Linked DNA regions of Homo sapiens. The protein of the gene in region 2 purifies or fractionates together with the protein of the main gene of each other region. This does not show direct contact. Each region holds a gene or a part of one and is shown on either strand. Other genes may lie near its edges. The genes, in order: ACVR1B, TMEM200A, AXL, GOSR1, PPP3R1, FHOD1 and DDR1.

The links.
Region 1: the proteins of TMEM200A (region 2) and ACVR1B purify together in Homo sapiens (affinity purification with mass spectrometry; one large-scale study listed by BioGRID and IntAct). This does not show direct contact.
Region 3: the proteins of TMEM200A (region 2) and AXL purify together in Homo sapiens (affinity purification with mass spectrometry; one large-scale study listed by BioGRID and IntAct). This does not show direct contact.
Region 4: the proteins of TMEM200A (region 2) and GOSR1 purify together in Homo sapiens (affinity purification with mass spectrometry; 2 studies listed by BioGRID and IntAct, with this or other methods). This does not show direct contact.
Region 5: the proteins of TMEM200A (region 2) and PPP3R1 purify together in Homo sapiens (co-immunoprecipitation; 3 studies listed by BioGRID and IntAct, with this or other methods). This does not show direct contact.
Region 6: the proteins of TMEM200A (region 2) and FHOD1 purify together in Homo sapiens (affinity purification with mass spectrometry; 2 studies listed by BioGRID and IntAct, with this or other methods). This does not show direct contact.
Region 7: the proteins of TMEM200A (region 2) and DDR1 purify together in Homo sapiens (affinity purification with mass spectrometry; one large-scale study listed by BioGRID and IntAct). This does not show direct contact.

What each region holds. Positions count from the first base shown.
Region 1 is NC_000012.12:51,992,980-51,996,843, reverse strand, and holds part of ACVR1B (activin receptor type-1B isoform a precursor), read right to left. Parts: intron 2,860-3,864; coding exon 2,734-2,859; 3' UTR 1-2,733. UniProt on the Homo sapiens protein: Transmembrane serine/threonine kinase activin type-1 receptor forming an activin receptor complex with activin receptor type-2 (ACVR2A or ACVR2B).
Region 2 is NC_000006.12:130,441,025-130,443,664, reverse strand, and holds the end of TMEM200A (transmembrane protein 200A), read right to left. Parts: coding exon 1,767-2,640; 3' UTR 598-1,766; downstream 1-597.
Region 3 is NC_000019.10:41,253,678-41,257,541, reverse strand, and holds part of AXL (tyrosine-protein kinase receptor UFO isoform 1 precursor), read right to left. Parts: coding exon 3,834-3,864; intron 1,091-3,833; coding exon 931-1,090; intron 50-930; coding exon 1-49. UniProt on the Homo sapiens protein: Receptor tyrosine kinase that transduces signals from the extracellular matrix into the cytoplasm by binding growth factor GAS6 and which is thus regulating many physiological processes including cell survival, cell proliferation, migration and differentiation.
Region 4 is NC_000017.11:30,475,996-30,480,462, forward strand, and holds the start of GOSR1 (Golgi SNAP receptor complex member 1), read left to right. Parts: upstream 1-1,412; 5' UTR 1,413-1,438; coding exon 1,439-1,469; exon of another isoform or gene 1,470-1,817; coding exon of another isoform or gene 1,818-1,998; intron 1,999-4,467. UniProt on the Homo sapiens protein: Involved in transport from the ER to the Golgi apparatus as well as in intra-Golgi transport. It belongs to a super-family of proteins called t-SNAREs or soluble NSF (N-ethylmaleimide-sensitive factor) attachment protein receptor.
Region 5 is NC_000002.12:68,217,967-68,221,830, forward strand, and holds part of PPP3R1 (calcineurin subunit B type 1), read right to left. Parts: intron 1-3,864. UniProt on the Homo sapiens protein: Regulatory subunit of calcineurin, a calcium-dependent, calmodulin stimulated protein phosphatase. Confers calcium sensitivity.
Region 6 is NC_000016.10:67,244,599-67,249,006, forward strand, and holds the start of FHOD1 (FH1/FH2 domain-containing protein 1), read right to left. Parts: upstream 2,884-4,408; 5' UTR 2,813-2,883; coding exon 2,612-2,812; exon of another isoform or gene 1,841-2,611; coding exon of another isoform or gene 1,670-1,840; exon of another isoform or gene 1,240-1,669; intron 1,144-1,239; exon of another isoform or gene 1,002-1,143; intron 1-1,001. UniProt on the Homo sapiens protein: Required for the assembly of F-actin structures, such as stress fibers. Depends on the Rho-ROCK cascade for its activity. Contributes to the coordination of microtubules with actin fibers and plays a role in cell elongation.
Region 7 is NC_000006.12:30,883,342-30,887,652, reverse strand, and holds the start of DDR1 (epithelial discoidin domain-containing receptor 1 isoform 2 precursor), read right to left. Parts: upstream 3,135-4,311; 5' UTR 2,943-3,134; intron 2,674-2,942; exon of another isoform or gene 2,434-2,673; coding exon of another isoform or gene 2,422-2,433; intron 2,370-2,421; exon of another isoform or gene 2,265-2,369; intron 2,029-2,264; exon of another isoform or gene 1,973-2,028; intron 1-1,972. UniProt on the Homo sapiens protein: Tyrosine kinase that functions as a cell surface receptor for fibrillar collagen and regulates cell attachment to the extracellular matrix, remodeling of the extracellular matrix, cell migration, differentiation, survival and cell proliferation.

The DNA.
Region 1 (3,864 bases), on a different chromosome or scaffold from region 2:
TGAATCCAGAATCCAGAGGTGCAGGTAGCACTATGGATCAGGGTTAGCCTCGGGGGGCCAAAAACACGGCTTCAGTTTCTCCCCAACTCTCACTTAGTGTTAAGAGTGGCAGAGGTGGGTGTGGGAGCTTCCCAAAGACCTGCTCCATCTTCCCCAGAGGTGGAAGAGTTGGACTGTGTGTGGGGTAAGGGCAGAAGGGCCAACTGGGGAGTGGGCTAGTGGCTTGGGAGTGGACGTGTGTTGGCAGATCCCAGAGGCTACTTGTGACTCTGGGAAGAGGAGTCTAAGTTCCATCATTACCTATAAACCGCCAAGGTTCTGCTGCAGGGCGGATAGGTGGGAGGTCAGCAGGGGTAAAGACGGTCCCCCCAATGACACAATGGTATTTAAACGAAATTAGTGGCCAGTAAATTGGCCCAAAGGTTAGGGGAAGATCTCCTTTAATGCAAGGAAAGAAGCAATAATCAGTCAAATAAATAGAAGGGCCAGGAGCACTGGGGAGCCTGAGGGCAGGGACAGGGCTCTCCCTCCTCCACAAGCTTTGGCAGAGAACTGCTGGGTTGGAGGCAGAGATGCTCTAAGGCTACATACACAATACACCTCCCCTGGGGACAGGAAGGGGGCTCAGAATGAATGCAGTGATTTGAGGTCTCACCTGGGGTTCTAAACCCCAGGTCTCATCACCCGCCCCTGGTCTCTTTGTGGAGGGGGTTGTGGGGGTTCCTCTTTCTTCAGTGATCTTATATAAGAACAATAATTCTAGGCTCAAAAGGGTCGTAGAACCAATTATGAAACCTTCTGGTCTCAAAACAGGCATCTACTTACTTGAATCAGCTCTTTTTACAGTGCTCCAGGAGTAGGACCCAAGCATGTCTTGTCCACAGATGTATTCCCAGCACCTGGCACCCAGCAGGCACTTCACCCACATTTGTTGAATAAATGCCTGGAGAGGGTACAACCAGCTGGACAGTGCAAGAAAGGGCCCTAGAGCAAAAACCACTCAAGGAATTGGGGGTGGGGACAAAATACGAGAGAGACTGAGCCTCAGGGCAAAGAGGAACTCTCACTGCTGAGTGGGAACAGGCTCAGGTGCAAGGACAAACATTTCCAGTGTGATTGAGCTATGTGCGTTCAATTGGATAATTTTTTTTTTTAGGGATTTCTTTAAAAACAAATAGATTGAGAGGTAATCACAGAGATGGTTTTCCTTTTACAAAAACTTAATATTTAACAACATTAAAAAAAGTTAAAATCCAAACCCTCCCAATAAAATTAAAAAAAGAAATCAAACCACTCCAGTTAAAAGTTATGGCTTCAAAGTTATTATATACCTAAGATATGCTGACCAAATCACCACCCACAGCCGTGCTTCTAGGCTTCGTTAAATACTATACTCAGGTTAAATAACATGTTCGGCTCAGGCTGTTCCCTTCAGTAGGGCTCCTGAAGTGGATGCAAACCTCTCACCTTCCCTCCACCCTGATCAGACAGTCCAGTAAAAGAAGACCCATGCAGATGCCTCCCTCCCACCCCAGACTCCCTCCCCACTCCTTGCCCGCCCTTCCCTTCCCCACCCCAAACCCACCACCACCAAAAATATACACTGCTGTTTCCAGGATCTGGGAGATGAAAGACAGATGTAACATTCCAATCTGAGTCCCGAGATCTGGCTTCACATTCCTCGGCCCTTCCTCGATGCTGCTGAGGATGATGCCCTTGGGCTGGCTCATTTCCCATGGCTGACACTAACACCCAAGACTTCCACCAGGATTCCTTCCCTGCCCATCCCACCCACCACCCTCACATTTTGGCCCAAAAGCCTCTTTTGTCATGGACAACTGGGCCAGCTTTGGTTCCACAGTCTGAGATGGAGGAGGAGAGCTGTGCTGATGCTGGGGTGGGCAGAGTAGCCTGCCAGACACAGAGTACCACTGTGGCATGAGGGGCTCTGGGGGAGGGAGAGACCTCCAGGGAAGGGCACCAGGGAAACTAGATGCTGCTCACTACTGAAAAGAGGCACCAGCAAGCACGGACAGCATGACGACCACACCCCCGACCTGCACATGCACAGAAAGCTCAAGCAGGTAAGTGCGCACCTACAGACACACACACACACTCACACGCACGTGTAAGGGCATGGCACGAACCAGGCACAACGGGGGACGCACCTCGGCACATGCACACACGGCTGGACAGACAAAGCGGCAGATTCCGTCTCCACTGGCAGTCTCCCGGCAGCGTCCATCCCAGGGAGGAGGGGAAAGCGCGGCTCAGAGCTGCCTGTGAGAGGGGCTGCACTTCTGGTTCTTCCGGGCCACCTTGGTGTGCTGTGGGCTGGTCCCCGAAGGAAACCCTCAGGGCAGCTTAGCACTGGCAACACCTCGGTTCCTCCGGCCCCTCCCAAGCGCCCCTGTCATGGCTCCTGGCCACGTGCCAGATGCACCGGGTTTCGCGGGACTTCCCACTACAACCAGTTCGAGGTGTGGCACTGAGTTCTCCACACAATTCGCTCTCAGAGTCTCCATGCCATTAGGAGGTAAATAGAAAAGGTGTCTGTCTCAAACCCAACATGGGAGTGAGCGAGTCTCTCCCGGGCTCTGTCCCTCTTGCGGGCCAGGGCTCCTGGCCACAGAGGGCTGGGCAGAAACGAGAGGTAGGCCTCCATCGTACGCTCAACGCGGCAGCTGTGCGTAGTTCTCGCTGCCAGGAGCTCCGTGTGGAGAGAGGGAGCAGTTAGATCTTCACGTCTTCCTGCACGCTGAGCTGGGAGAGGGTCTTCTTGATGCGCAGGGCCGTCAGGCGGGCTGCGCCGTTGGCATACCAACACTCTCGCATCATCTTCCCCATCACCCGCAGTGCCTGTGCAGAGACCCAGGAGCCATCAGCTCGGTCATGCCCTGGAGAAGCCTTTCTGGTCCCTAGGCTCTCACTCATTTCCCTGCCACCTCCCGCTCAGTGCAGTCTGGCAGATCCACATCCACCCGGCGGCCGACCTTAGGGAAATGCTCTGCAAGGCTCCCTTTGTTCCCTGGCTCTTCCTTTTTTTTTTTTTTTTTTTTTTTTTTTTTTTTTTTTTTTAGAAGGAGTCTCACTCTGTCACCCAGGCTGGAGTGCAGTGGCGCAATCTTGGCTCACCGCAACCTCCGCCTCCCGGGTTCAAGTGATTCTCCTGTCTCAGCCTCCCCAGTAGCTGGGACTACAGGCACACACCACTACGCCCAGCTGATTTTTGTATTTTTAGTAGAGATGGGGTTTTACCATATTGGTTGGCCAGGATGGTCTCGCTCTCTCGACCTTGTGATCTGCCCACCTCGGCCTCCCAAAGTGCTGGGATTACAGGCATGAGCCACCGCGCCAGGCGGCTCTTCCTTTTTAAGGGACAGCTTACACAAGTGAAAGGCAAACGCTGCAGCTAACGGCCAGCTCTTTTGGTCTCACCTGCCCTCTGAAGCAAACCCTGCCCTGAGGGTTCCAAGGAGTGCGGTGAGAAGTGCTGCTCTATGATGCAACACGAAAGCATCAGCTAATATGCAATTCTGTTCTGAAATGCAGAAATGCCCTCTAGTGGTTAGACTCGTTAAAGGCAGAGCCAACCTCTCTACTTGACTAGGTAAGTTCTGGGGCTCTAATGGACGGCAAGGTGACTAGAGTCAACAATACTGTACACCTGAAATGTGCTAACAGTAGGTCTCAACTGCTCTCACTACACACACAAGCAACAAGGTGAGGTGACAGATGTGTTCACTAACTTGTGTGGTAATCATGTCACAATACATACATGTATCAATTCAGCACTTTGTACACCTTTGTTACAATTTCATTTGTCAATCACACCTCGATAGAGTTGGGAAAAAAATAAGTAAA
Region 2 (2,640 bases):
TTTTCAAATCTGAGTGCCGCTGACTTTTGCTGTATTTGGTTATTTTCCTGAGAGTCAATGAAACTTTAAGTGAAAACGATCCCAAGATAAGAAAATTTAAAAACAGTCTAATTAAATAGGTGGATAGACCTAGCTCTTTAACCGAATAGAAGCAAAATTTAAAAGCCGAGATACTCAGTACATGTACTAGGGTATCAAGTGCCCTCAGTAGAATATATCTGAAAGTGTGAAAAACAGTACTTTAAGCAGAAATGTACATTTTATTTAAAAAGCAATAGCAAAGGTGTGAAGAACACAAACTTCTATTAATAACAGTTTATTAAATGCTTTATAGTAAAATATTGAGCCCACTCTATTACAATACACAGACTTAATGTTCTAACAAAGAAAACTGCCTCAATTGAGGGAAGTTTGTGATGCAAATGCAAGGTGGAATTTTGGGGAGCAACACAAACAAATGTATCCTCCTTCTGCTCTTCCACAACTGCAATACTGATGTTCAGAAATGTTTAGGTATTGGGAGAAACCTTTAGAATTTCCTGAGTATTTTATTAAACAATTCTTACAATTATGTTACCTTAAAGGAAAACATGAAAATTTTCTGATGAAAACATCCATTTTAATATTTATTATCTTCAGTGACTAAGAAACACAATCCTAAACAACATGTATTATACCGTAAGAAAGTCTTTGGAGTTATCATAAGGCTCTCCAGCACAAGGTAAACTTCAAGGCAATTTATCAAGAACTAAATTTTTTTGAACTACCGAGATAGTGGCATATGAAGGTAAAAAGAAATGTCAAGGTTAGCCGATTGTTTTCCAAATACTAGGATCTAAAGAATACCGGGGGAAAATAGAATGTGGGAATGAGGTGCTATTGGACAGTAACAGATGGCTAAAAACAGGTACTGAGACTAGTTAGCATTAACTAGTATATAATGTATCTTAATTCATTAGTCAACATTGTCTTCATGTATATAATTATTTCAGGATAGCATTTCTACAAATTTTATTGGTTCATTTAGTTTATCAAGTCAGCTTGCAAATAAATTTTGATTCCGAGTATCTAACGTTATAGCAACTATAATTGCATTTTGATGTTTATCCCTAAGTATATCTGGCACTGTCAGCCATGGCTCTTGAATACGTTGTTTCTTGATATAATATCACTAAAAACAGAAGTGATATTGAAAAAAATAACTACTTATCTAAAACTCAAGATTCACAATGAACTTAACCAATTAACATTACTGAGCTCACACTAAAACTAGATCTTTTTCATTTTAAATAATGTAACCAAATCCTACAAAGAACAATTATTCAGAAAATCACATCCTAAGGTTTGCACTCATAGTCATCTATAATACGTATTGAGTATTGGGACTGAATTTGTACTCCTGGTCCACACTTTGGTACCCTATGTTTTCCATACTGGACATTTCATTTTATGAATAGGGCAATCAAAGAACTTAAAAGTAAAGAAAATAAGCTTTAATTTGGATGCAAGCATTTTGCATTCATATTAATAAAAGAGATCATGCTTTCAAAGGAAGAGAAAAATAAAATCATGTGTGGTAACATAGAGTACTGCAGTCACAAGTAACCCAAACATACAACCATCTTCATTACAGAACTAAGCAGCCAATTCTAATACACTACAAACCATTTGATTAAAAAGGCTTACAGCCAATACTTTAAGAAGGAAACACCAGTGAAAATCGTTTTAAAATATATACCCTTGTAAAATGATATATTCTTTTAACATTAAAACCTTGTTTCAGAAGTTCCCCTCTTTAGGTTGTTACTCAAAAACTCATCATGTTCAAAACTCAAATTATTGTGAGATCTTGAAATCATAAGAAGCTTCTCCTTATTGGTAAAGTCCTTTTTGATGGCAACTTGGGGCACAAGCAACCTATCCATCGGGTCTTCTTTGTTCTCTAGTTTCATATATCCCTTGCTGTTGTTCCGATCCAACCTAGGCCAACTTGGATGTTTCCGTTGTTCTGCCTGAACAGTTAGAGTGGAGGGACCCCGGTCTAAGTCCAAGGACTTTGAGTGTGACGAGAGCAAATGCAAGGATGTATTGGACCCAAACTGTCTTCTGGCAGCCCCAGGAGACAAGAGCTGTCCAGCCCCAGGTCCGAGAGCCATAGATGACTTGTACTGACTCGACAACGACTCCCCAATGGAATTATTCCTTGGTAGCACTGTGCTGACGGGCTGGAAGGATTCACTGGTGTTGGGCAAAGGAACCACAAGGGAATCCATTGACAAATTCCTTGACCTACTTTTGAGGTTGTCAGCATCTTCAGTGATGTTATCTATACTGGGCTCATCAATAACACAGTTATTAAGTTTGATCACAGGCAATGTAAAAGCACTGATGGACGATGACACAATTGACTTGGTTTCACATTTCTTAGAGCCGCTGGTCTTATCATCAGTTGTCTTGGAAGGAGGTGGATAGAGGCCAAAGACAGACACAGAGCTGTCAGAGAGCAAAGGGGGCATAAGATGCCCAGAACTCTTACCTTCATTTAACATAAGTTCATCCTCCTCCACGGAGCTGTCCATTCGAAAACTGCTCCGAAAACCCGAGAAAGAGGCGATCGTATTTGCTGCCAATCTCGAGGCA
Region 3 (3,864 bases), on a different chromosome or scaffold from region 2:
GGGTTTGGCCTCTTGTGGCAATCTCCCACATTGTCACCCCGAAGGACCACTGTGAGGGGCAGAGGGAATTAGACAGTCTCTCCTGCACAGAATCACCCGCACCAATACCCAGGTTCATGGGTACACCCACACTTATGTACACATGTTCACAACCATCCTCTGGGAGCATCACAAGTATTCATAGAAACATAATACTTTAGCCGGGTGCGGTGGCTGATGCCTGTAATCCCAGCACTTTGGGAGGCTGAGGTGGGCGGACTGCCTGAGGTCAGGAGTTTGAGACCAGCCTGGCCAATATAGTGAAACCCCGTCTCTACTAAAAATACAAAAATTAGCTAGGCATGGTGGTGGGCGCCTGTAATCCCAGCTACTCGGGAGACTGAGGCAGGAGAATTGCTTGAACCCGGGAGGCAGAGTCTGCAGTGAGCTGAGATCATGCCATTGCACTGCAGCCTGGGTGACAGTGCGAGACTCCATCTCAAAAAAAGAAAAATATATATATATAAAAAATACTTGACACGGGTATACACATGAATAAGTAACTTTTGTGGATGCATACACATGCTCACCATCACACACATATACACACTTCATGGACACATGAGCTCATGTGCCACTCTGCACACCCTGGCTGTCCACATTCTATGAGTGTGCGCACATGCACGCATAATCACTGCAGCTTCTTCTAACCTAAACTGTCTACATTGCTACCATGCACACGTGGGCCTGTATTTATCCTGGGCATGTACACACCACTATTCAGAGATGCCCACCATACCCCAAGACATGCCCAGCCCATGTGGACAAGCCCCTGCAAAGGGAAGCCCACATGTCCCTGTGACCCTTGCATCCACAGCCACCCAGGCATAGTGTGTGATGGTCAGGCCATGCCCTCCCATGGTTCCCCACTCTTGGCGGGAGTGCACCTACCACATCGCTCTTGCTGGTGTAGACACGGTCAGCTAGACTCTCAATGGCAATCCACTTGACTGGCATCTTGGCGATACGTCCCTGGCGGTAGTAGTCCCCATTGTAGATCTTCTTGGAGAGCCCGAAGTCCGCCACACACACGGACATGTTCTCATTCAGCCTGTTTGGATTGGGGAAAGGAACAGGGTCAGGGCATCAGTCACCTCCACCAGGAAGCCTGCCCTGGCTCTCAGACACATCTGCACCTCCTCCCCTCACTGTCCTGGCTGCGGGTGGGGATCTGTCTCCTAAACCTTCATCCCAGTCCAGAAGGGAACTGCTTTACTTCTTGTTCACTCTGTCAAGTGAGGATGGGACAAAGGGCTTCCTCAGGACTTCCCAATTTTGGCTCTTTGCTAGATTCTAAGGTCCTTCCTTGGGTTTGATTCCTTGATGAAATTTTTTTTTCTTGAAGTATACTGTACATATGGAAATGTGCACAAGTCATAAGTAAGCAGCTCACTGAATTTTCACACACACACACACACACACCCATGTAACCAGCACCCAGATTAAGAAACAGAACATGGCTGGGCATGGTGGCTGGCGCCTGTAATCCCAGCACTCTGGGAGGCCAAGGCAGGTGGATCACTTGAGGTCAGGAGTTTGAGACCAGCCTGGCCAATGTGGTGAAACTCTGTCTCTACTAAAAGTACAAAAATTAGCCAGGTGTGTTGGTGCACATCTGAAATCCCAGCTACCTGGGAGGCTGAAGCAAGAGAATCAGTTGAACCCAGTAGGCGGAGGTTGCAGTGAGCTGAGATCACGCCACTGCACTCCAGCCTGGGCAACAGAGTGAGTGAGACTCCGTCTCAAAAACAAACAAAAAAAAAAACAGGCACAGTGGCTCAAGCCTGTAATTTCAGCACCTTGGGAGGCCAAGGTGGGAGGATCACTTGAGGCTAGGAGTTCAAGACCAGCCTGGAAAACAAAGCAAGACCCTGTCTCTACAAAAAAATTTAAAAATTAGCTGGACATGGTGGCACATGTCTGTAGTTCCAGCTACTTAGGAGGCTGAGGCAGAAGGATAGCTTGAGCCAGGAGTTGGAGGCTACAGTGAGCTATGATCATGCCACTGCACCCCACCCTAAAGGACAGAGTAAGACTCTGTCAAAACAAAAAAGAAAAGAAAGAAAAAAAGGGAAAGAAAGGGAAAGAGAGAGGGAGGGAGGGAAGGAAGGAAGGAAGGAGATAAAGAGAGAGAAAGAGAAAGAAAAGAAAGAAGAAAGGACAGAGAGAAAAAGAAAGAAAAGAAAGAAAAAGAAAGAAAGAGAAAAAAAGAAAAGAAAATCCACAGGACATTCATATGATGGAATACCATACCACACAGCAAAGAAAAAGAGCAAACTACCCCTACACAGATCCATCTCAAAAACATCATGCTGAGCCATAGAAGCCAGACACAAAGCAGTACAAACTGCATGATCCCATTTGTATGACTTTTCAGAACAGGCTAAACTAGCACTGAGAAGTCAGGATAGTGGGTACCACTTGGCGGTAGTGATTGGGAAGACGAAGAGGCATGAAGGAGCCTGCTGGGGCTAAGAAATATTCTTTACCTTCATCTAGTGGTTACATGGGTCTATACCCATAAAAATTCATCGAGCTGAGCTGCATGTGTATATTTTAGTGTATGTAAAATATACATCAATTTTTTTTTAGATGGGATCTTGCCCTGTTGCCCAGGCAGTAGTGAAGTGATACCATCATGGCTGACTTCAGCCTCAACCTCCTGGGCTCTAGCAATCCTTCCACCTCAGCCTCCCAAGTAGCTGGAACCACAGGTATACACCACCATGCCCAGCTAATTTATTTTTTGTAAAGACAGGATTCACTATGTTGCCCAGGCTGGTCTTGAACTCCTGGGTACAAGTGATCCTCCTGCCTCAGCCTCCCAAAGGGCTGGGATTATAGATGTGAGCCACTGCGCCTGGCCAAGACTAATATTCTAACTCTGTGGTTCCATTCCCTCCACCTTCTACCCTCCCCTTACCCTCTATTCTGGCTTTTGGGGGATTTTTTGTTCTTTCTTTTCTTTTTTTCTTTTTTTTTGAGATGGTGTCTCGTTGTTGTTACCCAGGCTGGTCTCGAGGCTCAAGCAATCCTCTCACCTAAGCCTTGGGAATGGCTGGGACTACAGGTTACTATTTTCTTTTTTCTTTCTTTCTTTCTTTCTTTCTTTTTTTTTTTTTTTTTGAGACAGAGTCTTGCTCTGTCGCCCAGGCTGGAGTGCAGTGATGCGATCTCGGCTCATTGCAACCTCCGCCTCCTGGGTTCAAGCAATTCTCGTGTTGGGATTACAGGCGCACACCACCGCACCAGGCTGAATTTTGTACTTTTAGTAGACAGGGGGTTTCACCAAGGCTGGTCTCGAACTCCTGGCCTCAAGTGATCCACCCGCCTCGGACTCCCAAAGTGCTGGGATTACAGGCGTGAGCCACTGCACCCCATCTGGCATATTTTCTGCTTGTCCATTGGTGGGGAGTTTGATTTTCTTATCCAGTGTGGCCGCTTCCAAAGGGCAGCCCCAGGCAAGACACCCAGCATGGAGTGGGACAGAGATGCAGCTCACGTGTCCCCACCCCCATCGGTCACCTCAGCCCCTTTGCTCACCTCATGCTGTGCACTGAGCCCACCTTCTGGTCTCTTCCCTCTCCGCATCCAAATGCTCCTTCCAGATCTCAGTTCAGGACTCACCTCCTCCAGGAAGCCTTCCCAGACCCCCTTACTGACTTTCCTGGTCCTGAGTTCTGACCTGCCCTCAGCGGGTGTCTAGCCCTGCTTCCATCCTAAGAAGGAGGGAGGGAACTCCCTCAGGGAGTGCAGGAGCAGTTGGGGGGGGGGGGTCCCTGAAAGGCACTCACATGCAGTTCCTGGCCGCCAGGTCCCGGTGTA
Region 4 (4,467 bases), on a different chromosome or scaffold from region 2:
ATTAGCATAACTTCAGAGCTATGTGGGACATTAACACAAGATCTAGCATTCACGTCATCAGACTCCCAGAAAAAGAAGAGAAACAGTATGAGACAGAAAAAGTATTGGAAGAAACAATGGTTGAGAATCCCCCAAATTTGGCAGAAGACATAAATGTCAGAATCAAGAAGCTGAGGATATCCCAAACAGGATAAATCCAAAGAAATCTACACCAAGGCACATCATAACTTCTGAAAACTAAAGAACAGTTCTTGAAAGCAGTGAGAGAGAAAATGTATTTTAGCTACAGTGGAAAAACAATTCCAATTTTAGTCAATTTCTTATCTGAAACTATGGAGGCCAGAAGGAATTGGCACATTTTTCAAGTGCTGAAGAAAGAAATTGTCAACTTCAGATTGTATATCTGGCAACAATATCCGATCCCCCAAGAATGAAGGGAAATCAAGACATTCTCAGATGAAGAAAAACTAATAGAATTTGTCACCAGCTGATCTACTCTTTAAAAAAAAAATGGCTGAGGGAAATTCTTGAAACAGAAAGGAAACGATTAGAAAAAGGAATCTTGGGACACTAGGAACGAAGAAGAGTAAAATATGCATAAATCAAGTAAGCTTTCCTCTTCTCTTGAATTCTCTAACTTATGCCTGACCCTTGAAGCAAATATTGTAACACTGATGTGGTTCTCCTCAATGAATGCAGAGGAAATACTTAAAAACAACTATATTATAAATGAGTGGGGGAAAGAACTTTACAGGAATTAAGGTTTCTACACTTCACTAGAATTAAGTCAGCACCGGTAGACTGTGATAATTTATGTATCTATAAAGTGTGGGTTTGGACAGCAGATTTTATCAGGTTGAGGGCTCAGGCCGAGAGCATGTAGAAGCAGTTAGCTCACTCTTTCTAGATGTGGCGGCTGACAAGGACAAAGAGGGCTGGGACTAGAACTGCTGTAGACAAGGAAAGCAGCCAGTGGAGAAGAGCGCATACGCCAAAGAACGTGGATGATGGAGCACAGGCGGGGAGGTAGGATGAAGGAAATGGCTCTGGGAAGAAAGGGTCTCTATGTCTGAGAAAGGAAGAAATTGGCTGAAGATACAAATTAGAGACAAGGTGAGGGAAATTGAGGGAGTTGCCTGAGGATGATTCTCCTCCCAGTCAAGTAGGCACCTGCTGAGAGAAAGGATAAGCCGAGATGAGGGAGATGATGATGGTTTGGGGCGCAGAAAGCGGGAATGAAAGACAGGAGCTAAAGCCGAAGTTTTTTCTCTCTCGCTACTTAAAAGCTGTAAGATAACGAATTGATCAGCAGGTGGCAGTGTCCGCGGAGGCTCGCATCCCGTCGGCCCTGGCTCTCAAGGCGGAAACACGCACCATGGTGACTTTCCGGCCTGCATCGCCTCTGCTCCCCTATCCCGGCTGACGTTGGACGACAAAGATGGCGGCAGGGACCAGCAGTTACTGGGAAGGTGAGGGCGAGAAGGCCTCCGGGTGCGTCCTACGAGGGTGAGAGGGGCTGAGTGAGGACAGATCTTGGGAGAAGCAGCACAGGAAAGAACCAGACTCCCGGAGCGGCCGAGCTGAGCAGCGGGGCTTGCCTAAGTGGGATCCCCGGGGCCTTGGGGATACCGAACGGTCTGGGGTAGGGGTCTGGCCTGGCCGGGGCGTGTGAGCGGGACGTGGGGCAGGGGTTGGGCAGAGTGGACAGAGCGGGGATGTAGAGGAAGAGGGCTCTCAATCGCCTGGGTAGAATTGTGTTGAGGGAGTAATGGAACTCGGACGAAGGGGCTTGGGGTACGAACTCTGAGAGGAAACGAATGTTGAGGGAGAAGATCCAGAGCCCCGGAGACTGGAGGAGTCAGCGCATTGGAGCTGAGGTCACTATTGGAAAACTGAGTGGGAAAAGAGAAGGAGGAACTTGCATTCCGGTCCGTCGGAGGAAGTATGAAGAGAATAGGAGACAGAATGTCTCTTATTGGGTCTCCATGACAACTACAGGTTGGGGACTTCCAGGACTGGGTGTTTGAAGGAGGAGAAAATAACTTACCCTTCTGCTCTAGAGTCTAGAATCGGTTTTATTGAAAAAGTTGAGAGAACCTGTGTGAATTGCAGTTACATTTGCTATACTTCTCCCACCAAAAAAACCTTCCTGTGATTTGACAAATGCATTTGTTTAATTCCTGAAACTATAGTCGGATAAAGTGAGCTTACATAAAACTCATTCGTGGATTATGATGATCAACAAGAGCAGAGAAAGCTCACCTTTTTCTCCCAACTGTCTCTTTGCTTTACAGCCGCATAGAAACTACTTTCCAAATTCCTTTGACCTGTTTTTATTGCTATACACTGAAGCCTCTAGAAACCACAGTATTGTCACTATCAGCCCCTTGGTCTAAGAAACTCAATTCTAAATTTATCCAGATTTGCCTATCATACTTTCAAAATGCTTTTACTTATGTTTCCTACTAGAGAAGACAATTATTCCAATCACAGAAAAGCGTGCTTATAGTTTAAAACATGTATTACAATGCCCATTTGAAATGTGTGTACCAGCTAGAAAACTTTTTTTTTTTTTTTTTTGGAGACTCGCTATGTCGCCCAGGCTGGAGTGCGGTGGCGCTATCGATCTCGGCTCACTGCAGCCTCCGCCTCCTGCGTTCAAGCGATTCTCCTGTCTCAGCCTCCTTAGTAGCTGGGACTACAGATGCATGCCACCACGCCTGGCTAATTTTTGTATTTTTAGTAGAGACGGGGTTTCACCATGTTGGCCAGGATGTTCTTGATCTCCTGACCTCGTGATCCGCCCGCCTCTGCCTCCCAAAGTGCTGGGATTACAGGTGTGACCCACCGCGCCTGGCCGCTAGAAAACATTTTAAAATTATGTAGAAGAGGCTACTGATATCTTTATTACTAGTCATTAGCCTGTGGTTTTTTGAAGCAGCATGCTATAATATTACAGCGGCTCATTACTGACAACCTACTCTGTGCCAGCTGCTGTAAGCATATGATTACCAATACATAAGCAAACCCTGAAGGTAGGGGTTTAAAAAACAAGAAGCTGAAGTTCATAGGTTAAGTAGATTGTTGATAAATCATAGAGTCAGTAAGTGGCTGTGCCGAGATTCGAACTGGCATTTGGTCTCTGGGCAAATATGCTCCACTATGTTAACTACGCTTTCTATTTCTGGTTGAAAAGCATATTGAAATAATGTTTTGTATTCTTTTTGAAAGAGAGATTCTTATACCATTACCTCTGGTACTTCTGCCCTTTTATTTTAACCTTCACTTCACCATGAATGAGAATACTCGTATCTGTGTGTGGGTGTCCAGACTGTGGCTTCTGTCACGCAACCCTTAGATGCCAGACTGCTAAACCAATTTCTCTACTTGCCTGTTTGCTTCTGCTATTAAAACTTATGTACTTATTTCTATCATACTCATATTCGACCTTGTTAGTAGCACATTGTTTATTGTTAGTTTTAGCCCTCCAAATTACTTTCAGTAAGTTTTTTTCTTTTTTTTAGATGGAGTCTCGCACTGTCGCCCAGGCTGGAGTGCAGTGGCTCAATCTCCACTCACTGCAAACTCTGCCTTCCAGTGCCTTCCAGGTTCACGCCATTCTCCTGCCTCAGCCTCCTGAGTAGCTGGGACTACAGGCGCCCACCACCACGCCTGGCTAATTTTTTGTATTTTTAATAGAGACAGGGTTTCACCGTGTTAGCTAGGATGGTCTTGATCTCCTGACCTCATGATCCGCCTGCCTCGGCCTCCCAAAGTGCTGGGATTACAGGCGTGAGCCACTGCGCCTGGCCTCAGTAAGTTTTTTAAAGGCGGTTTTTGGCCAGGTGCGATGTCTCATGCCTGTAATTCTAGCACTTTTGGAGGCCCAGGCAGGAGGGTCACTGGAGTTTAGGAGTTCGAGAGCAGCCTGGGCAACATTGTGAGAAAAAACAGAAAAGAAAAAAAGAAAGAAAAAGGCAATTTTTGTGGTAACTTTTTTTCTTTATGTTCAATTGAGAAGTCATTTTGGTCCGGGCGTGGTGGCTCACACCTGTAATCCTAGCACTTTGGGAGGCCAAGGTGGGTGGATCACTTGAGGTCAGGAGTTAAAGACCACCCTGGCCAACATGGTGAAACCCCGTCTTTACTAAAAATACAAAAATTAGCCAGGCATGGTGGTGTGTGCCTGTAGTCCCAGCTACTTGGGAGGTAGTTGAGGCATGAGAGTTGCTTGAACCCAGGAGGTGGAGTATGCAGTGAGCCAAGGTCATGCCACTGCACTCCAGCCTGGGTGACAGAACGAGACTCCATCTCAAAAAAAAAAAGAAAAAAAAAGGTAAGTCATTTTGCTATTATGAAAAGAAGTTCATAAGCCTAATAAAGCTTTGGAACATAAAAAGCAAAATCCCTTTCAAAAGAATAATGGCTTCTTTCTTATAACATTAACTGGTAAGTTGATAATGCTGG
Region 5 (3,864 bases), on a different chromosome or scaffold from region 2:
AAAGTACTTCTAAATCTAAAACAGTAATATCTCAAGTAGTATAACAGACTCAGAGGTAGAATCATTAAGGTCTTTAAAAACGTCTACAGAATTTAAAGTAATATAAATTAAGTTTTTAAAGTTCAGTGGTAAATTGAATACGAAGCATCCTATATTCTATTTATCTAACCTTGACCCTGCCTAGCAATTAAATAGCAGTAAGTATACAGTTGCTATTAATTTAAGTGTACAATTAACATGGGCATATTTAAATATATATCTTCAGAAGCTACTGAAAACCTGAATTCTTTTTTTTAGTATGACTGGCTGGCTTTTAAACTCCTCAACGTACCTTTAATCTTATGTAAACTTAAAGGCTAATCAGTAAATTACCACATTCAATTAACTGACATATTGCCAATAGCTAGTCTTTTTCTTGCAAGTTATAGCAGATAATTGCAATTTTCCAGAACTGGTTAATTTAATATTAGGTCACTTTAAATATCAAATATGTTAAAGTGAGGATAAAAGAAAGCAAACATTAATAAAGCTTGATATTAATGAACAGAGATGGATTTCTGCTTACTTTGCACATTACTTAATTGATCTTAATATTCTTACCATGATTCTTATCTTCACTGCCTTACATATTCTTGCTGTCTTAATTTTTTTAATGTTTTTTTTTCCTTATTCCACTCCACCTTAAAGTTAAGTATGTTTCTTGCAAGACTCTCAAGAGCATACCGGTATTTTATTTACTAAAATTTGCACTGTCACTGTGAGTTTTTTTTTTTTTAAATAAGTATCATTACTGTTTTATAAGTGAAGGTAAAAAAGTGTTATGTGGTGGTTTCAAGCAGGATTTTAAAACCAGGTCCTTGTTTCTCCAGTTCACTGACCTTTACAGTGTTATCAATTCTTTCTAAATGATACCATCTATCTCACCTATTTATCTGTATCATTCCCAACTAGACAACGTCCACAAGACCTAAGAACCAACCAGTCCAGGGCTCCTAAGGACTTTCCCATTAACAAAGAATAACTCGTCTTGCTCCTAAACTTGGAATGCATATATCCAAAACACTACTGCAACCACAATCTGTCCCAAACTGACCACATCACATCTCTGCTAAAATTCAATAGCTCCCACCTGCCTTCAGAATAAAAACCAACACTCTTTAGAAAGCTAAGTAAAGTCCTTTAATTAAGAGAACTCGTATCTCTGTAGTCACTCTCCCAAACAGCACCACCATCTCTATCCTACACTCCCCACTTTTTACTTCAAATTCTGTATTGTTTGAACTTTCACAGCAAGAATGTCTTCATAGTCTACCTTCCATTTAAAAAAGGAAACCAAAGCAAAACATGGCAATATAAAGATAATTTTGTCAATATGGTCAATATAATTTTGTTCCACGTTCAGTCTTCCTCATGCTTAGTCATTAGTAAAAACAGGAGTTTTGGAGATTCCCCTTTATACTCCTCTCCACACCCCCTCACGTTCAGCTTCTTAAGCTACTACCTGGGAGTATTACATTTATCAGTAATTGTTTCATTCAGGTTTGGTGTGTGGGCTATAGTTTATTGATCCCTGAACCTAATGCATAATTACATTTAACAAAAAATACACATCAGTTTGTAAATTATTATATCAGACTTAACTGGAAAAAATAGCATTTCTGAAGGTAAATTAATTCTGCAGTGAATTTGTAGCCAATAGCTCCAGTCTAGGGTTGGGAAATACTAAAATAATGATAGATACTGTGAGAGACATACCCAATAAGGTACTGACATTTACTTCTAAGAGAACCACTCAACTAAACAAAACCATAAAATTATATCTAAATATGAAAAAAGTCCTAAAGCTAACATGTTTTAAGTTTACATAAGAACACTTGAAGAATTCAAACATCATGCCACATGACCAAGTTACTGACAAGATCACTTGTTGATGAGGTCCTTAAATAAATCCATTTGCCTGAAGTTCAAGATAGACTCCCCTTACACTATACTGATTTAAAAATTCAGTAACATCTGCCCATGGGGGAGAAATGCTATATGAACCACTTGACCAGTGTTAAAAAAAACTAGTAAATCAGAAAAATTTTATCAAACAACATTTATCAGGCATTTTCTGTGATCATCTATATAAGAAAACAAAAGAGGTAAAGCCCTTAGGATCTATGTCCCAGCTTACTGTCTGGAGAAAGTTTCCAGGTTGCAGCACAGGAACAGAGAACAGAAACACAATCCCGAGACATCGCCAAATTGAGAAGTCAGAGATACATGAAGTTCGTATGGCCAAGGAGGTGAGACTTGTGAGGAAGAGTACTTCAGAAAAGGGAGACACATGAGAGAACTTTGGAGATCTGCATAAAAGTCTCCTCCAGTCTCTGCATAAGTTTGAGAGGAAACTCCCCAAGTCCAGGAAAAGAACTAGTAGCAGGTTGAATAACTTTTGGGAGTTTGCACAGAGCTAGGAATAGTTCATGATCCCATGGGCCAAACTGGAGAAACTTGTAAATACACAGGGAATTGGGTCCAGTCCTCAGAACGACTATATTGGCCATGAATTAAAGGCTGTTCTTTACTTACCTTAAGAAAGATAGAAAACAAATCTCAGATCAAATTTGGGTCTCAGTAACTTAAGTGGATGGCAAAACAAACTCTTACGTTCTTTAAAGGAATAAAACAAAATCTAGCACAACAGCATAAGATTCACAATGTATGTATGACATCCAATATAAAACATAATAGGACGCTATAAAATGGATGAACTTCAAAATCATGGTAAGTAAAAGAAGCCAAAAACAAAAGGCCACATTTTATGATTCCATTTATATGAAATATACTGATAAAGAAAATACACAGAAACAAAATGTAGAGACTGGTGGGTGCCAGTTACACAGAAACAGAATGTAGAGACTGGTGGGTGCCAGTTGCTGGGGGAGGAGGAATGGTGAACAATTACTTTTTGGCTATGGGGTTTCCTTTTAGGGTGATGAAAATATTTTCGAATGACATAGAGGTGGTGGTTGTACTACATTATAAATGCCAGCCTGGGCAACATGGCAAAACACTGTCTCTACAAAAAATACAAAAAAGGCCAGGCATGGTGGCTCACGCCTGTAATCCCACCACATTGGGAGGCCGAGGCAGGCAGATCACTTGAGGTCAGGAGTTCAAGACCAGCCTGGTCAACATGGTGAAATCTGTCTCTACAAAAAATACAAAAATTAGCTGGGCATGGTGGCGGGTGCCTGTAATCCCAGCTACTCGAGAGGCTGAGGCAAGAGAATCTCTTGAACCTGAAGGTGGAGGCTGCAGTGAGCAGAGATTGCACCACTGCACTCCAGCCTGGGCAACAGAGCGAGACTCCACCTCAAAAATAAAAACAAAAACACGAGCCAGGCATGTTAGCATATGCCTGTAGTCTCGGCTACTCAGGAGGGTGATATGGGATAACTGCTTGAGCCTGATAGGTCAAGGGTGCAGTGAGCCTTGAGCACACCACTGCACTCCAGCCTGGGCAACCAAGCAAGACTTTGTAAATAAATAAATAAACAAATGTCACTGAACTGTTCACTTTTAAAATGACTTTGTTATGTGAATTTCACATCAATAAAACGTTTTATATGCTGTTTAAAGAAATAATGGCCCCAAATCTTCCAAATTTGATGAAAACTTTAAATCCCCAAATTCAAGAAGTTCAATGAACTCTAAGTAGAAGAAACATGGAAAAAAAAAAGCCACATAATAAATTGCTGTGACACAGAAAATCTTAAATATAATCAGAGGGGAAAAAAGATAAACTACATACATACAACATAATTACTACAGCATATTTCTCCTTAGATACACCAAGGACAGGAAACAATGGAATCT
Region 6 (4,408 bases), on a different chromosome or scaffold from region 2:
GCTAGGCTCGGCCCAATGGGGTGTGTGGGTGGAGTCCCAGGGAGAAAGCAGGCTGGCCTCTGTACATCCCCAGGGAGGGGGGTCATCTGCTGGGATGATCAGGGCCAGTACCCGGGGCCAGTACCCAGAGGAGGACAGAGGCCACTTGGCTGTGTCCTGTCCTCTGCTGGACAACTGTACATAGGACGAAGCAATGAGTAAAGAACCCCTTCCTCTTATTTCTGCCCTACAGCTTGGGACAGGGATGCCCTGGTTTCTGGGCCACCTCTTCCCTCTAGAGGGCCAGCAAGACAGGCCTGAGTCATGTCTGTGACTCTGGGGCACCCACTTATAGGACTACGGGAGGAACCAGCTGTTGACATTTCCTGCAAGGAGGGGCCCTGCTCCCCCTTGCTCAGCTCTCTGATGTCCCTGTCTCTGCCCTATTCTCAGCCCCTCTTCCTCCAGCCTTCTATTCTGGGGCTGTGGTCATAGTTTATATTTGGGTTGAGCACATCACAGTGCATCTGACCATTCCTGGCAGAGTTGCTAGCCCCAGGGAATCCTGGCTTCTGGCATTGTGGTAACCTAGTGTGCCACCTCCATATCCCTGTGGGGGAGGGAAGGCAGTCCTCAGGTACTCCAGGTGGGAGAACATGAAATCGGGGAGACCAGGAAGGACTGCATTGGGGATGAGGAACTTATATTCTTCACCGGAGCTCAGTAGTGTCCTCAGCTAAGGAGCAGGGAACACAGGGCAGAGCACCTGGTAGGGTTGGGTGGGGACACGGGTCCCATGAGAGGGAGATAGAAGGAGTGGTTCTGAGCCTCTTTCTTGCAGCTGACTTCCCAGGCTTGCCCCCAGCTGGGAAGAGGTGTGTCAAGGGGCTGGGCATGGTGGCTCAAGCCTTAATCCCAGCACTTTGGGAGGCTTAGGCAGGCAGATCACCTGAGGTCAGGAGTTTGAGACCAGGCTGGCCAACACGGAGAAACCCTGTCCCTACTAAAAATACAAAAATTACCTGAGTATGGTGGCGCACACCTGTAATCCCAGCTATTTGGAAGGCTGAGGCACGAGAATTGCTAGAACCCGGGAGGTGGAGGTTGCAGTGAGCCAAGATAGCCCCACTGTACTCCAGCCTGGGAGACAGAGCCAGAATCCGTCTTAAAAAAAAAAAAATCGGGGGGGTGGTGTCAGGGCTAGGTCCAATCCTTGAGTTGCAGGATGAGAGGAATACAATATATTCTCTAGTGCCCCACCCTTATTTCAGGATCCGGACTTTAGGAGCCTGGAAGCGGGAACCAGTCTTAGTTCAGCACTCCTGTCTTCCCAGCCCCCATCCTGAATGGGAGGTGGCCTCCAGCTGCACACGCTTCTTCCAGGCACACCTCAATTTGCCCCTCTGAATAGGGCAAGAGAAGCGGGGGCTGAGTCAAAACTGGCGGTGAGCAGTGTCCTGCATCCTTCCAGCCATGGCCTTGAAGCCGGGGTTCTGGCCTGGACACGTGCCACTCTCCAGGCCAATAGTCTCACCACCCCTCCCGCCAGCGCTCAGAGGCGGGGCTGGCCGCAGCGCGAGGAATGCGGGCTGGGGGCCCGGGGCACATTCCAGGGAAGACCCCAGGCCCAAGGGGCAAGTTTACGCAACTCGCCGCCCAGCTGAGGCTGGGAGCAGGGGAGGGCACCCACCCCGACTCTCTCTCCTCTTCTCCAGCACTGGAGGCGGCCGGGCTGGTGGGGAGCTTGTGGAGGTGGTAGTGCGCCTCCCAGAGTCCTGGCCCGGAAACAGCGCGCCGGAAAGGGCTGCCTGCGGGGGGCTGACGGCGGCGAGAGGGAGGGGAGAGGAGGTAGGCTGGCCATCTGGAAAAGGGCCTCTTTCCGCACTGTGCACAAGTCCGCTTCGGGGCGGCAGCAAAGTAGGGCAGGCCGGCTGTTTAAAATTAGTCCGGCCCTCCCTCTCACTTTCAGGCGCGGGCCGATGGGCGGCGAGTGTCCGGGGGTGGGGGCGGGAGCGGTGACTCAAAGGGCTTTTACACCCGTGCAGCCTCCTGCGCTCTGCGGATCCCGGGCCAGACCGCTTCGCGGGGACTCCCCTCACCCCGTGAAGTCTCTCCTCGGCCGGCACTCCCATACTCCCATTGACCTACAGGGTCAAGCCCCAATCCAGCTTCCTGACACCGCAGGAAACCTCTGCCACCTCTAGTAGTCCGCCTCGGGCCCGCCCCTCCTCGTGGTCCCGCCCCCACCTCACCTGAAGCAGGTGGAAGCTGGTCCCTCCCCAGCTCCGCCTCCAGGGTCCGCTACAGCCCAAGCGGCTACCGTCACTCTGACCAGGGAAGCCACCCTGGCAGACCGACGGCGAGTGGAACTCGAGCACCTCCCCAGGTGCGCCTAATTCGAAGGGCAGTCAGAATGGCGGAGCCAAGTTCCTGGCACCCCTCTTCAGTTTCCCCTCAACTTGAGAGGGGACTCCCCCGCAGGCGGGGCAGAGTGGACCCTGGGACCCCAGCCCAAGACTTTTCCGGAGAAGAACACTCGCTCCAGCCTCTTCCCGCGGAGCACCTCCCACCAGTTTTCATGGCGCCCACCCTGAACCCCCGATCGCCCCAACCTTTCTCCGGCCTCCCTCACCTTGAGCGGCGCTCCCAGCAGGCGGTGCACCGCGGGTATCTGCGCGCCCAAGGGCAGCGCCCCGTCCAGGCTGCAGGTGGGGGCCCGGCGCGGCTCCGGAAAGTTGGCACATGCGAAGGGGTCGGTGTCTTCCAGGTACTGCACCCTCACGGTCACCACTGATACCGGCTCTCCGTCCCCGCGGTCTTCCCCGCCCGCCATGGCTCTGCGGCCGGCTCACGCAGCGCGCCTCCGAGTCCCGGCCCCAGTGCAGCTTCTACTCAAAGCACACTGTAGCTCCGCGGTTCGGGCCCGGCCGGACCGGACGCGGCTGGAGGGGCGGGGCCAGACGGAGGCGGGGCCGAGGAAGGGGGTGGAGCCAAGATTAGTCCCCGAGTGCGCGCCAGGAGGTAACCACTGCCGGAGGCGGGGCCGCCGCTAGCCACTCACAGGGCCCAATGGGAATCCCGTTAGTTCACTGGCTAGGAGGGCGGGAAAAACCGAGCTCGCGCCCCACCTTCGAGAACGCGCAGAAGGCGGGGAGGCTTTCTTTGGTCTGGGGATAGTGAGGCTGCGTTCTCTTTGAGGGGTGTTAGGGCAGATGGGGCAGAAGTTTCTTTAGATAGTGGCCGGCCAGGTCTCTCTCAGTTGAGGGACAAGATAGCCCTCATTCCTTCCATTTGAGGGGTGAGTCCCTGTGGTTTCCTCATTTAGGGAAAGCAGTGAGAGGGGGTCCCTTCAATTTGGAGCAAGAAGTGAGAATAAATTCCACCCAGTTTGAAGGAAGAGGTGGGATCAGTTCCCTTTAGTTGTGGGAGGAAGAGGGAAGGATGCCCTTCAGTTTTCTGGGAAAAGATTGGGAGGAGTCAGTTTGAGGGGGCAGATAGAACACGTTCCCCTCAGTTTTGGAGAAAAAGTGGGATGGGTGCCCCTCAGCCTGAATGAAAAGTGGAGACGGTCCTCCTCTGTTTGGGGCGCTATGAGCCGAATGCCCCTCAGATTTGGAAAAAGTTGGGTGCATCTCGCCTAGTTTGAAGGGAATCAGTAGGCTGGGTTTTCCATAGGTTCCTGTCAGCTTCATCAAAGAGATGAGACAGTTCTCTGTAGTGTGACTGAAAGGGAGGGCCAGGTGCCCCTTGGTTTGGGAGATGAAGAACAGCCTCCCTCTTCGCCTGGCACGAGCTGGGCCAGTCTGGGCCTTAGGGTTTCTGGGACGTTGGGGGCAGCGTTGTCCGTCACTGCTTTGGGGAGCGTCCAGTGCGCGTGCGCAGCTCAGGTCCGGGTGGGGGCCGGCAGGGGGTCCTGGGCTTGGCAACGTGGGCGGAGGGCGGCCAAGCACGGTCCCCTGCGTTTTGCACCCGGCCGCGCCTTGGTCCCAGGGGGGTGCTGCTCGCCGCACAGCAGCGCTGGCCGAGGAGGAGCCGTGCCCCTCCCGTCCTGACCGCGCCCCCCGCAGACCCCCGCCCTTCCCGCTGCGGGCTGCCCCAGGGGGGCCGTGGCCGCGCACCGCTCTGGATCTGGTGGGGGCGGTTTTGGGGAGGTTTGGGGGCGCGGACTCGAAGGAGTAGGTTGTGGAACTTGGGGGAGAGCTGCACTGGGGAATTTCCGGAGCTGGGACTGATTTAGGGAGGAAAGAGGAGAGAGTCCCCGACTACGAGAGTCCGAGGCAGGGTCTCGGAGCCTGGACCTGGCTTGGGGGTATCGGAGCCGGGATTGGGGGGAGCGGGCCCCACGTGCCTGTGACGCGGGGGCGCCCGGTAGGTGGCGGCGGCGACGCGGGGCCGGCGGCCGTGCGGTGCCGGGAGGGCGGCTGGGCAG
Region 7 (4,311 bases), about 100 Mb from region 2:
GTTTATTGACTACTATGCAGCTATGAAAAGTAACAAAGAGGCAATATATTCCTAACTTTGTGTGATTTCCATGTATATCTGTTGAATATGAAAAGCAAGCAACAGAAGTATAAAAAATATCCCACCTTTTGAAAATAGAATAAACAAGCACCCATGTTTGTATATATACCTGTGTGTACGTCTAGAAGGAGAGAATATATAATAGAATATAACAATAGAATACAATATAACAAGAGTTAACATGAACGGGGCAAAAGAAAAGCAAATTTAAAAAGACAGGTTGATTGTACTATTTTTCTAAATCTTGTAACATAAATGCATTTATGTAAAATCATAAGATATGTAAAAGAATATGAAAATCATTTTGACTTTTAAAAAATAAATATGTCCCAGGAAAGGTTGGGCAATTCCTTGTTGAGGATATGATAGAATTAAACATCAGATAAGCCTGGACCAGCTCACCCTGCTGCCCTCCCACATAGGAGTCCAGAATTCTAAGAGAAGGGCAGAGGGGACCCCAGCACCTTCTAGTCTTACTGTCCCCTATAGCCCTCTAGGCCCAGGGTGGTCCCTGGACCATCAGCAATACCTGGAAGCATGGAAGAAATCAGAATCTCAGGCTCACCCTTGACCTGCTCAATCAAAATCTGCCTTTTAACACAATTCCCAGGTGACCTGTGCCCATTAAAGTTTGAAAATCCCTACTCTGTTCCTCAGGCCCAGGAAGCTTACCCCACATAAAACTATTCTAAATGGCATCTCCTTACAAACCCAAGTAACTACTCTCCCCTCCCCTGCTGCAGGAAAAGCTATCCTAACCTGTACTGGTCTCAGAGCCCTGTACTGAAGTCTCCAGGCCCTGGAGTCCTGAGGGACTCGACTGCCACCTCTTATCAGGTTCAGGGCATCTTGGGCCCAGTTATCCCTGCTCTGCCTTCCTGAGACCCAGACATCCAGTCCCCCCAGTTCCCACTTCCAGAAGGTGGCTGCCTCTGAGGGACTGAGGAAAGGCTGAGTTGCCTTGGAGACGAGGGCGGGTCTAAAGACAAGGAAGGCAGGTCACCCCAGGAGGTAGGAGGAGTGGGGGATACTCCCCCATCCCTTTGTCCTCCTCCAGCTGCTCCCACAATGCACTAGGGCAGGAATGTAAGAGGCAGCTGAGACCCCAGAGCTCTGAAGCAGCAGCTGAGGGGGACGACTGAGTTGTGGGGGGCACTCAGAGGCTAGAACCAGAAGGCATCACGCCTGGTCCCTTAGGGTCCAGCGCCGGGGAGCAGGCTGCCAGAGTCCCAGGAGACTGGCTTGGAATTCCTGGGTGCCGCTCTCCAACCCCACCTCTCTCGGGAACAGCGGGGCTCTTGTTCCCCTAAGTAACCTTCATGCCTATCCCAGATGAGTCATCAGAGCCACACAGAGCCGAGAGGAGCCCGGGGCAGAGATACAAAGGCAGGCAGAGGATACGAGGCAGGCGGAGACAGAGCGAGAGCCACAATGCAAGAGGTAAATAGAGCAGGCTCAGAAACACGGGGCACAGAGCCAAGCAGAGGAACACGGAGAAGCACAGAGACGTCTGGGCTGTCTGTTCTCCAACACCCCCAGTCACCTCATCTCTCTCCACTGGGTCTTCAGTCCACAGTCAGAGACCCAGAGGGCAAGAGAGGACAAGCCCAGAAGACCTTCCCCAATCCCACCCCCTTCCACTCCATTACAACCAAAGACAAACCAGGGGCCAGGCCACCCTGCCTCAAGCCCTTCACGCTCCTCTCCCAACCCCCAAGTCCCACTCAGACAACACCCACACAGCTCTGTACACACACACACGGTGAAACACACAAACTTACTGAACTGGCTGTAAACAGCGAGGCTAAATGTGGCATGCACACACCCACCTCTCAGTGTCCCTGACAACCCTCACAGAGTTTCTGAGACAGAGCAAACACAGAAGCTCATGCATACATCAACCCGTCCACACCTTGGCATTCCTTCAAGTCCAACCCCATCGCTCAGTGAATAGCCACCTTCAGACACCTGTGAACATGAAATGACAGACACCACATGCTCCTGTGACCAAAAGACAGCATGAGACACACACACCCGGGCCCTTGGGCACAGGATCCCCAGAGAACTGGGGCCCAGCCTCTAACACACATGGGTGACCAAGCCAGAGGGACGTCGAGGGGGCAGGGAACAGGTGGGCGCTGGGTGGGAAGAGTGGCAATAAGGACAACAGCCTTTCCCTGCCTTTCCACTCACTCCCCTTTCACCTGTCTCCACCACACCACTCAGTCCTGGACACACCTACAGGCCCTCAGCAACAGCCAGCGAGCTTGGGCGCCTGCCTCTGGCTGCTGGAAGCGCTGGGAAGAAATGTTCAGCCAAGAGCCAGGCATGGGGGGGTGGGACCCTGAAGCTGGCGCTCACCGGCAGTGACATTCTCTCATGCCAGAGCTAATTGACCATCCAGCCGGGAAGAGTGGTGTCACTGGTGGGTTAGAGTGGCAGTCCCTCTTTTTGCTGGACTGTGACCAGACTGACCAACTGGGTGTTGGCTGAGCGGAGGCTTAGCAGTTAGATGCCCGCAGGGACTGGCCAGGTGGAGGGCAGGCGATAGATGAGCTGACTCAGTGGGGCTGCACAGGAGCACCTCCTCCCGGGGCTCAGTTCCTCCGCACTGAGTGAGAGGGGACTTGCCTCAAGGCTGGAGGCTCAAAACTCTTTCTGGGAGGTCACGGGCTTCACCTCCACCCAGTCCCCGCCCCCGGTTTTCAGACGGTATGCCAGAGCATCGGGGAGGCGGGCAGGGAGGCTTAGAAGAGCTGGACGACCAAGCATGGCTCGGGACGTCCTGCCTCCCCCGCCCCTCGCCCTGCAGGCGCCGCCGCGCGCCCCCACCCCAAGAGCCCCAGGCCTCCGCCCGCGGGTTCCGCCGCCGCTCTCCCTACCTCTCATCGCTCTTCCCGGCAGACCCAGGCGTCCGACCCGGGAGCGGGGCCTCTTCGGCGGCGGGGCGAGGGGCGGGGGAGGCGGAGGGAGCCAGGAGCCGGGAGCCGGGAGCGGGAGGCGCCGGCGGGGCTCGGGTGTCGGGAGGCGGCTCCCGAGAGCAGCTGTCGGGGGCCTGTTCCGGGGAGAGGAGCCAGGGCTGGGGCGGCTCGGGCCCAGGCGCCGCCTCCCCCTCGCCTCGGCTCCCTCCCTTCCTCCTCCCGCTCCTCGCTCCCCTCCCTCCCCTCGGCCTTCTCGCCGCGCGTTCGGGCTCGCAGCCCTCCCTTCCCCCTCCCGGACCCAGTAGTCCCAGTGGCTCCCACGCCCGGCGCCGAGCTCCAGGCCCCGCGCCCGCCACGCCCACCCCGCGCGCTAGCGCCCGGCCCGGCCTCCCCCAGGTAACCCGCCCGCCAAGCCCGCCTGGGCGCTCCCAGGCCGCCCAGCCGCCCGCGCCGCTGCCTCCGGCCGGCTCCGCGCCCAGCCCCCTCCACCCACTCGCAGCCCACCCCCGCTTCCCCAAACGAGAACCTCCAAAGCTGGCGCCCCAGGGGGCTGGCTGCAGTCCCGCTCAGGGCCCACGAGGGGAAGACGCCCCTCCTACTTCTGGGATCGGTTCCTGGTGGGAGAGGCAAAGGGGAGCAGCCCCAGGGCACAGAGGAAGAAGCAGGTTCCCACAGGCTCGGCCCAGCCCAGCTGCGGGAGTTAGCCCAGAGAAGGGAGCAGAGCTCAGGTCTCAGGGCTCACCTGTCCAGCCAGGCCCCAGACTGCTCTTCTCCCTCCACCAACCTTTGCTCCTCTCTCGCAGCCTGTGCGCTCCCGCCCCTACGACCCAACCTGGAAGGCCCCAGACCCTGAAGGCGGGCCCACTCTCTTCTCCTTCTCCTCTCAGTTCCTCTCTCTGAAGGGCGTTCTAAGGGACCCGGGGGTCCAGACGCCCAGGCCCTGATTCCCCTGGGCTCCCAACGGAGTGGAGTGGGAGGGGGACTCAGGAGTCCTCAGGGCAAGCCTCCCTCAGGCCCAGCCAGCTCTGGCCGTAGTGGGCCAGAGGGTCTGATCACTGGCCAGAAGAGGCCAAAAATGAGGCCAGGACAAAGTTGAGTGGTCGGGAGGAGGAAGAAGAGGAGCAGGAGAAGGATGGAGGCACACTGAAAATCACACACAGTCAAAAGGAAGGGGACCAAGAGACCCAGGGAAGATGAAACAGTGAGACTGAGTAGGCAAAGCAACTGAGAGAGCTACTGGGCAGAGGATGGAGCGGGACAGAACAGCTTGTGGTGGGAGGTGCTTTTTCCCCACTCAGCACTACCTCAGCCCCTCACCTCTCTCCACACC